Regions from separate parts of the Homo sapiens genome. Here region 1 is linked to region 2. A link means that fine-mapping ties the variant in region 2 to the plasma level of a protein whose gene starts in the linked region. Region 2 holds a variant in brackets. A gene starts in the other region. All regions are shown on their forward strands.

Evidence for each region. A credible set is the group of variants that fine-mapping cannot tell apart. PIP is the posterior inclusion probability: the model's chance that the variant is causal. The UK Biobank Pharma Proteomics Project read protein levels with antibody pairs (Olink). The fine-mapping took linkage between variants from a reference panel, not from the people measured, so its PIPs are less certain.
Region 1: PI16 starts here. The variant in region 2 is the best candidate, but not a certain one, in a credible set for the plasma level of the PI16 protein (UK Biobank, PIP 0.55).

Annotation. Positions count from the first base shown.
Region 1 is chr6:36,952,274-36,957,660 of GRCh38, forward strand. It overlaps PI16 (peptidase inhibitor 16), which reads left to right and starts at 2,465. Exons shown (of 7, transcript NM_153370.3): 1 at 2,465-2,658. The coding sequence starts at 2,488.
Region 2 is chr1:219,099,503-219,104,889 of GRCh38, forward strand. The region is part of intron 3 of LYPLAL1-DT (LYPLAL1 divergent transcript); the gene reads right to left. Among named protein-coding and RNA genes, the nearest start is that of LYPLAL1-DT, 72 kb to the right of the region's middle. The variant A/G (reference allele first, on the strand shown) is at 3,076.

The DNA.
Region 1 (5,387 bases), not on the chromosome of region 2:
ATGAGCCACTACACTCTGCCCCCGAAAGTTCTTAATTTTAATGAAGTCCAATTTATTTTTGTTTTGTTGCCTATGCTTTTGGTGTCATATCCAAGAAATCCTTGCCACATCCAATGCCAAGAAGTCCCCCTTATATTTTCTTCTAAGAGTTTTGTAGTTTTAGCTTTTATGTTTAGGTATTTAATCCATTTTGGAGTTAATTTTTTAATATACTTACGGTAAAGATTCAACTTCATTATTTCGCATGTGGACATTCCAGTTTTCTAAGTCTTCTTTAAAAGACTTGCCTTTCCCTCGTTGAACGGTCTTGGTACCCTTGTCTAAAATCATTTGACCATATGTGTAAGAGTTTATTTCTGGGCTATTCTATTCCATTAGTCTAAATGTCTGTCTTTATACTAATACCACACTATTTTAATTATTGTAGATTTGTGGTTACATATTAAAATCAGAAACTGTAAGACTTCCAATTTTGTTCTTTTTCAAGATTGTTTTGACTATTTGGGGTCCTTTGAGATTCCATATAAATTTTAGGATGGATTTTTCTGTTTCTATAAAAATATTATGATTTGCATTTCAATAGGGATTGCATTGAATCTGTAGATTGCTTCAGGCAACATTGACACCTTAGCAATATCAAGTCTTCTAATCCATGAATATAGGATGACTTTCCATTTATTTGTGTCTTCTTTCACTTTGTTTGTCAACACTTGTGATTTTCAGCGTACAAGTCTTTTGCTTCCTTGGTTAAGTTTATTGCTAAGGGCCAGGCGCAGTGGCTCACACCTGTAATCCCAGCACTTTGGGAGACCGAGGCGGGCGGATCACGAGGTCAAGAGATCAAGACCATTTGGCCAACATGGTGAAACCCCATCTCTACTAAAAATACAAAAATTTGCCGGGCATGGTAGCAGCTATGGTGGGCAGCATGGTGGGCAAGTAGTCCCAGCTACTTGGGAGGCTGAGGCAGGAGAATCACTTGAACCCAGGAGGCAGAGGTTGCAGTGAGCCAAGATCATGCCACTGCACTCCAGCCTGGGTGACAGAGCGAGACTCCATCTCAAAAAAAAAAAAAAAGTTTATTGGTAAGAATTTTATTCTTTTTATTCTTTTTCATTGCTTTTATAAATGAAATTGTTTTCTTAATTTCCTTTTTGGATTTTTCATTATTAGTGTATAGAAACAACTAATTTCTATGTGTTAATTTTGTATCCTGCAACTTTGCTGACTTTATTAATTCTAATAAGTGTGTGTGTGTGTGTATGTGTGTGTAATCCATCTTGGTTTTGTTTTTATTTTTACTTGGAGACTCAGGCAGGGACAGGTTTTCTTGTCATCTTCCAAAGCCTGTGGGTAGACTTTTTCTAGGTCCCTATTCATTGAAGAAGCAGGCTTCAAGGATCCCAGCTGTCCTCAAGAGTACTGGTTCCAGCTTCCTGCTTCATGAACCGGTCATGGCCCCTGCAAGGTCAAGGTCATTATAATGCCAGCACCTGACTGCTAAGGCTATTTCCCTTCCAATACCTTCCCCTCAGAGCTCCTGGTGCATCAGCTCATTCAACCTTCTGCTTTTCTGCTCTCTCTTGATTTAAGAAACAGACACATTATATTTCTACATAGTTAGAGCACAGGGGTCCCAGCATCCCACTTCCAAATGAGCATGTCAAGCACATGCATTCAGAGAGGATACCTGGAAGCCAAAATTTTGCCATAGTGAAAGGCCTTATTCCTGAATACAGCTAGAGTGGGGAAGACCTTGGCCTCTCCCCCCGCAGGCAAGAATGTTGCCTCCACAGGGGGCTGGTAGCCTGCTAAGGCCCAGGCCACATGAGTGGGTTGTCTACTGTTACTGAGGGCCTACTATGTGCCAGACACCATACTAGGTGCTTTACATACATTATATGTCATTGAATCTTCCCTCTAGTCCTGTGAGATAGGTACTATTATTGTCACTGATTCACTTGAGAAAGCTGCCAAAACACAGATAGCAAGGGGCAGAACCAGGATTCTGATTTAGGTTGGCTCAGCCTTTTATCAAATACATCTGGTCTTCCTCTGTCCTTTCAAAAGCCTATAGCTTCCTCATCTTGCCCACTCCTCTGTGGGTAGGGTCTGTGGTTTCCTTTCTCTTATCTATCTTCAACACACAGTGGGTGTGACCTGGGTGCAACCAGTCACAGCTCTGCAGAGGTTACTGTGATTTTGCCCCTGAAGGATCTGTCCACAACTTAGGAACTCACACAGCTTTTGGCCTGAGCCCCCGTTACCAAGAGAAAGGAGGTTTTTGCCAAGGACTCCAAGGGGAGTGCACTTGATGCTGGTCGGGACCCAAAGCGCCCAGCCCTCCCTGAGACATTGTGTGAGTCGGGCTGGGCCTCAAACACGGCCCCCACTGCCCCACCCCAGCCAGGGTGGTGCTTGTGTGGGAAGGACTTTAAATCCAGCTGCCAGACCCCTGGACGGGAGAAGGAGAGACGGCTGGCCACCATGCACGGCTCCTGCAGTTTCCTGATGCTTCTGCTGCCGCTACTGCTACTGCTGGTGGCCACCACAGGCCCCGTTGGAGCCCTCACAGATGAGGAGAAACGTTTGATGGTGGAGCTGCACAACCTCTACCGGGCCCAGGTATCCCCGACGGCCTCAGACATGCTGCACATGGTAAGTGTGGCCACGGCCCTTGCTGGCTGGGATGGAAGGGGTGCTGGCCAGGGTCTGTCACCAGGCTCTCTTACCCTGCTCCTCATGCTGAAGCTATTTCAGAATTCCTCTCCTTTTTCTGGTCAGTGACAGAGTCCCCGAGTCCCTGACATGGTATTACATTACTTTAAATGGCAAAAACCACAATTACTTTTGCACCCGCCTAATAAAATTCACAGGCCCCTATAAGCAGCCTCATAATACAGATAAGGAAAGTGAGGCTCAGAGGGATTTGTTGGGGTCACACAGCTGGTAGAGCCAGACCCAAAGCCCTGGCTTCCCACTCCAATGAGCTTTCCCCAGCACTTCCTCAAATGCATGTGCCCTCAGTGGGGGAACCCGGGAAGTTCTTAACACCTTTGTGAAAACGGTCTTTCACATGCCTGCCAAGGAGAGGACAAGAGGAAGCAGGGCAGCAGGATGGGCGTGGGCACGTGGAGTAGGAGGCAGGTGCTAAGGAGGTGGGTGACAGCAGGATCCAGAAGCAGAGAGGGCTCTGGATCACACAGTCCAAATTCTGTCTCGGTCACCTACAAGACCTATGATTCGAGGCAAGTCCTGTAACCTTGCCGATCCCGTGTCTCATCTGTAAAAGGCGGTCAGAATTAGAGCTACGTATATACCAGTGTGGATTGAATCTCACAGATATCATACTGAATGGGGGAGGAAATAAAATCTCTAAAAAATACACAGTAGGATCTCTTTACATGAAGTCTGAAAACATGTAAAAATACTATTTATGTCCTGGTGAAACACGCAGATGTAGTAAACATTACATGTACATGCACACAGGAGACAGAAGCCAGATTTAGGGTTGGTTACTTCTGTCAGGAAGAGCTATTTATGGTAGGGTGAGAGGCGGGCTGTCTATATGCAGAATTAAAGGAGATAAAGTGAGAAATTCACCCACTTCCTGCCCTCCCTGAGGGCTGAACTAGCTTGTCCCCTCCAGCCACCCTCAGGTGACTGGGGAGGTTGCTGGGCAGTGTTCAGGGACCCCTGGAGCTGGTGCCTGAGAGAACAGATGCACCTTGGGGAACATAACAGTGAGCCTGGGGCCCCAAACCTAAGTTCTAACCTCAGCCTAATGTGATCTGGCTGAAGTAACTCTGGGTGGACCCCTTTCCCTTCAAAGGCCTCTGTTTCCAGATGGAAACATGGGGCTGGCGATCCCTGCCCTGGGCGTCAGACAGGATGACACGTAAGAAAGATCTAGGAAGAGCTCTGCACACACCCAGCACTGCCGTTCACAGCTGTGCCAGCCTGCACATCGAGGAAAGGTGGACAACAAACCAGGCGTCACAGATGCAGCTCTGCCAACAGCTCCCTGATTGAGGCCTGTGACTCATTGTTGGACTTCAGTTTCCCCACCTGTAGATCCCTGATGCCCTACAGTCTTGCTGGCTGAGACTGGGGGCCACACAGGCTGGGAGCTGCTTCTCAGACAGAGGTGCGCCTTGGAGTGGGGCAACATTCTGGGAGGCAGTTGGGATACTGAGGGGATATGCTGCTGCCTAATGGGGAGTGACATGAGGAGGAGGAGATGAGGCTGGGGCTGGGATGCCAGGAAACATTCAGGACAAGACTCAGGTTCAACCTCAGCAGTGGTGAGGGCAGGGACTCTGCAGCCAAATGGCCTGGGTTCAAATCTTAGCTTTGTTACTTATTAGCTTTGTGACCTTGGCCAAATTAAACTCTCTGTGCCTCAGTCTCCTCATCTGTAAAATGGGGATGATAACAGTGGGATAATTCCCTTGTAGCTACAGTGGTTGTAGGGTTAAGTGAGTGAATATGTGTAAAGCACTCAGAAGAATGCCTGGCACACAGTAAGTGCTCAGTAAGTGTCTGATTAACACAAAAGAGGGAATGGATCCAGGGTGAGGCAGGTGGGGGTTATCATGAACTCTTCCTTCTCTCTCAGCCTCCAGAGCTAATCAGCACCAGTTTTGCCACCCCGAAGGTTCAATTGTCCTTGAAATCTAACCCTTACCCCTACCCCCTTCTCTTTTCAGCACAATCCTGGTTCAGGTTTCTTTCATTCTTCCACACAAGGACTCCTAGGATAGCCTCTACCTGTTCCCCAGCTTCTGGCCTCTGCTGTCAGAATGAATAATCCAACACATGGGCCTGACCCTGCTCAAAATCCTTCAGTGGCTCCCATGGCTCCCTACTGCTTCAGGTTAAAGCTCCAGCTCCTGACTGAGAAGGTTCTGTGTGTTCTGGCCCCTGCCTATCTCTCCATCCTCCTCTCCCGCTTGCCCTTTATTCTTCTGTCACCTGAACAGCTTGTCTTTTCCCAGCCAAAATGTTTCCCAGCTTCATGCCTTTGCTGATGTGTACCTTCTGATTAGGATGCCTCTCCCCTCCAGCTGACTAATGCCTCATCTTTTAACACTTAGCTTGGTGTCTCCCTCTCCACCTTTGGCTGGGCTAGATGGCCCTCTTTGGTGCCTCTATAGTACTTGTGGCACATCTGTCATTTACCATGTGGTGGCCCAAATGACTTTTATGTCAATGGAAATTTGGGCTTCTTGGTTCCTGCTGTTGTCCCAGGGCTGACACAATGCCCAGGACTGTTGAATGAATGAATGAATGGACTTGCTTCTAGATGGTGACCATGTGGCCAATGTGGGTGGGTGCTGAGAGTCTTACAAACTCCACAGGGGGCTCTGGATGACTGACTGAGAATC
Region 2 (5,387 bases):
AATTGTGGTGCTGTCACATATTTGAATATTGTATGACAGTGAAAATGAAAAAAATTTCTACTGTGTGCAGTAACATATATAAACCGCAGAAGCCTATGTTCAATAAAAATCATCAAGACTCAGAAGACTACATACAATATAATGCTGAAAACAACCCAATAGTCCCATAGATAGTTGTTTGGGTAAACATAGAAATTGACTCTTATGGTCTTAAAGCTTGAACCTTACATCTGTTCGATCTGAGTTCCTTCCTCAGTAAATGACCTTCAAGCCTCTCAAAGTACCAAAGAACTGAAGCTCACCAGAGCACCACATCCAGACAATGAGATGCCAGATCCTTCATTCATTATGATTGCTTGCTTGCCCCTCCCTAGTTCTTGTTTCTTGCATATTGTTGCATTTGTTCCCTACTATATAAACCCATAGTTTTAGTCAGTCAGGCAGATGGATTTGAGACTGAGCTCCCATCTCGTCAGCGGCAGCATCCAATTAAAGCGTTCTTCCTTGTCAATAATTGGCATCTCAGTGAATGGCTTTCTGTGTGGCAAGCGACAGGACCTAAACCGAACCTCTGCTTTTTCAGTAACAATATTATGTGTGTAGAAATGTAAAACAAGCTCAACTAAATATACAGCTACTTTAGGCATACATGCATTTGTGATAACAATACTATTTAAAGAGGATGAAGAGGCTGGGCATGGTGGCCCATGTTTATAATCCCAGCACTTTGGGAGGCCAAGGCAGGAGGATTGCTTGAGGCCAAGAGTGGAGCCCAGCCTGGGCAACAGTGTGAGATCCTGTTTCTACATTTTGTTTTTTAATTAGCTGGTTGTGGTGGTGTGTGCCTATAGTCCCAGCTACTCCAGAGGCTGAGGCTGGAGGATCACTTGAGTCCAGGAGTTGGGGGTTAAAGTGAGCTATGGTCATGTTTCTGCAGTTTGGCTTGGGTGACAGAGCAAGACCCTGTCTGTAAAAAAAAAAAATAAGTCAAAAGGAAGAAGAAACAAAAAATTCACAGGGAATGTGGGGAAAGTGCAGAGACTGTGAAAGAGATCCACAATGTGTAGATACAATTTTAAAGCCCTCCTTGGTATTTTTCTAAATTAAGAAGTATTATCCAGTAAAAAATGCTTTTTAATCAAGCAATATTCTTTTATAATATATTCTTCTCGTGCACTCCAATGTCCTCTTCTCTCTCCTCTTCTGGCTACAGTTGCACCAGGAAGCTGAGGCAGAGACAAGGTGAACATAACTGTAAATGGTAAAAAAAAGAATAAAAAAAGAAATAAATACTTCAAAGAGAGTTAGCAAATAAACCATCCCACATTTGGTTGACTTTTGGTGAATTATCCTAGAACTAGGGAAGATCAAAAGCAGAGATTACAGTCTGGAGGCTATTGCAACGTTCCAGGTAAGAGATGATGGTGGCCTGGAGTAGAATAAAATGGTAAATGTGGAGGAAAATGAAAAGATTCAAGAGGCATTTTGTAATTGTTGTCATGTCTGTCCTTAGAGTCACAGCAGTTGCAGTAATAATGCTAGAAACATTTTAAGCATAGTGATCATCCAATCCAACTGACAGTGTCTCCGGTTGCCAACAAAGAGGTGAACGGGCACTAGCATCACTCCATCCCAGGGTAATTACATCATTTGGTCATCAGCTACTGTATTCATCTCCTCAAAGGTGTTGTGATCTCAAAGCTTATTCTATATGTTTTCTTTATTTCATTTAACTGACTTTGCTGACCCTTGATCCAGTTCTTATTTCTCCACTGAATTCTGAAACTCTTGAATCTTCTCCTTTGCAGTCAGCCAACTCTCTTAATCCTCTACTATTGTTCAGAATGTTCCCTTTATTTTAACAGCTTTATTAAGGTGTAATTGTTATGCACAAAAAGCTGCACATAATTAATATATAAAATTTGATAGGTTTTAACATGGGGTGTTTTTCCATTTATTTGGTTTTCTTTAATTTCTTTCAGCATTTTTTTGTAGTTTTCAATGTACAGGTCTTTCACTTCTTCATTTAAGTTTATGCCTAAGTATTTTATTATTCTTGATGCTATCATAAATAGAATTATAAACCAAAAGTAAAAATTTAAGCCCCCCAACTGACTGAATGGACCCTTTCTCTTGGCCAAGAAGATTCCAAAAAAAATCTGAAAAACTAGTTCAGGCCATGATGGGAAGGGGGTTCAGTTATGCCTCATTATACTCTCCTTCCTTTGGAATTCAGGCACAAATGACCAGCATTAACATTAAAACAGAGATCTTTACACTGACAACCTGATTATTTGTAGCAATATGATACCAAATTCAATCCGATCCTAGCAGAGCATCACATGACAAATAGCAGGCCCTAAAGGAAATTGAGTATTTAATCTCAAAATATACTTATTTGACATATGTTGAAGTGGCCTGGCAAAGCTCTCTCGTGGGGGAAATTTACATTTTGTAGAGAACTGCAGGTCTCTTTCTGAGCCGGAGGAGATTAGTTGAGAATCTACCACCCTTAAAAGGACTGAATTAGAAAATATTTGCCATCTATTGCCTCTAAGGGTGGCTGCCTTTGAGACTTCATCTACATAATAAGAACCTTCATCTCCACAACCACTCATCTTAACCCAGACACTCCTTTCTATTGATTCCAGGTCTTTAAATAATGACTCTTTCAACCAATTGCCAATCAGAAAATCTTTGAATCCGCCTATGACCTGGAAGTCCCTGTTTTGAGTTCTTCCACCTTTCTGAACCAAAAAAAATGTATATCCTACAGGTATTGATTGATGTCTTATGTCTCCATGAAACATATACAATTAACCTGTAACCCAACCACCTTGGGCACATGTTTTCAGGACCTCTTGAGACTATGTCTTGGGCCTTGTTCACTGATATTTGGCTCAGAATAAATCTCTTTAGATATTTTACACAGTTTGGCTTTTTCATCAATATAATCATTTTCTTCATTTCCTTTTCAGAGAGTTTAATGTTGTTATATAGAAATGCAAATAATTTTTGTATGTTGTTTTTATTTCCTGTAACTCTTATACATTTAACTTGAACACCATCCAAATT[A/G]TTGGTGTATAACTGTTAATTGGAGTCTCTTGTGATCCTTTTTATTTTTATTTTTATTTATTTTATTTTATTTTTATTTTTTTTAATTTTTTATTTTTTTATTTTTATTTTTTATTATTATTATACTTTAAGTTTTAGGGTACATGTGCACAATGTGCAGGTTAGTTACATATGTATACATGTGCCATGCTGGTGTGCTGCACCCATTAACTCGTCATTTAGCATTAGGTATATCTCCTAATGCTATCCCTACCCTCTCCCCCCACCCCACAACAGTCCCCAGAGTGTGATGTTCCCCTTCCTGTGTCCATGTGTTCTCATTTTTCAATTCCCATCTATGAGTGAGAATATGCGGTGTTTGGTTTTTTGTCCTTGCAATAGTTTACTGAGAATGATGATTTCTAATTTCATCCATGTCCCTACAAAGGACATGAACTCATCATTTTTTACGGCTGCATAGTATTCCATGGTGTATATGTGCCACATTTTCTTAATCCAGTCTATCATTGTTGGACATTTGGGTTGGTTCCAAGTCTTTGCTATTGTGAGTAGTGCCGCAATAAACATACGTGTGCATGTGTCTTTATAGCAGCATGATTTATAGTCCTTTGGGTATATACCCAGTAATGGGATGGCTGGGTCAAATGGTATTTCTAGTTCTAGATCCCTGAGGAATCGCCACACTGACTTCCACAATGGTTGAACTAGTTTACAGTCCCACCAACAGTGTAAAAGTGTTCCTATTTCTCCACATCCTCTCTAGCACCTGTTGTTTCCTGACTTTGTAATGATTGCCATTCTAACTGGTGTGAGATGGTATCTCATTGTGGTTTTGATTTGCATTTCTCTGATGGCCAGTGATGATGAGCATTTTTTCATGTGTCTTTTGGCTGCATAAATGTCTTATTTTGAGAAGTGTCTGTTCATGTCCTTCGCCCACTTTTTGATGGGGTTGTTTGTTTTTTTCTTGTAAATTTGTTTGAGTTCATTGTAGATTCTGGATATTAGCCCTTTGTCAGATGAGTAGGTTGCAAAAATTTTCTCCCATTTTGTAGGTTGCCTGTTCACTCTGATGGTAGTTTCTTTTGCTGTGCAGAAGCTCTTTAGTTTAATTAGATCACATTTGTCAATTTTGGCTTTTGTTGCCATTGCTTTTGGTGTTTTAAACATGAAGTCCTTGCCCATGCCTATGTCCTGAATGGTAATGACTAGGTTTTCTTCTAGGGTTTTTATGGTTTTAGGTCTAACGTTTAAGTCTTTAATCCATCTTGAATTAATTTTTGTGTAAGGTGTAAGGAAGGGATCCAGTTTCAGCTTTCTACATATGGCTAGCCAGTTTTCCCAGCACCATTTATTAAATAGGGAATCCTTTCCCCATTGCTTGTTTTTCTCAGGTTTGTCAAAGATCAGATAGTTGTAGATATGCGGCGTTATTTCTGAGGGCTCTGTTCTGTTCCATTGATCTATATCTCTGTTTTGGTACCAGTACCATGCTGTTTTGGTTACTGTAGCCTTGTAGTATAGTTTGAAGTCAGGTAGCGTGATGCCTCCAGCTTTGTTCTTTTGGCTTAGGATTGACTTGGTGATGCGGGCTCTTTTTTGGTTCCATATGAACTTTAAAGTAGTTTTTTCCAATTCTTTGAAGAAAGTCATTGGTAGCTTGATGGGGATGGCATTGAATCTATAAATTACCTTGGGCAGTATGGCCATTTTCGTGATGTTGATTCTTCCTACCCATGAGCATGGAATGTTCTTCCATTTGTTTGTATCCTCTTCTATTTCATTGAGCAGTGGTTTGTAGTTCTCCTTGAAGAGGTCCTTCATGTCCCTTGTAAGCTGGATTCCTAAGTATTTTATTCTCTTTGAAGCAATTGTGAATGGGAGTTCACTCATGATTTGGCTCTCTGTTTGTCTGTTATTGGTGTATAAGAATGCTTGTGATTTTTGTACATTGATTTTGTATCCTGAAACTTTGCTGAAGTTGCTTATCAGCTTAAGGAGATTTTGGGCTGAGACAATGGGGTTTTCTAGATATACAATCATGTCATCTGCAAACAGGGACAATTTGACTTCCTCTTTTCCTAATTGAATACCCTTTATTTCCTTCTCCTGCCTAATTGCCCTGGCCAGAACTTCCAACACTATGTTGAATAGGAGTGGTGAGAGAGGGCATCCCTGTCTTGTGCCAGTTTTGAAAGGGAATGCTTCCAGTTTTTGTCCATTCAGTATGATATTGGCTGTGGGTTTTTCATAGATAGCCCTTATTATTTCAAGATACGTCCCATCAATACCTAATTTATTGAGAGTTTTTA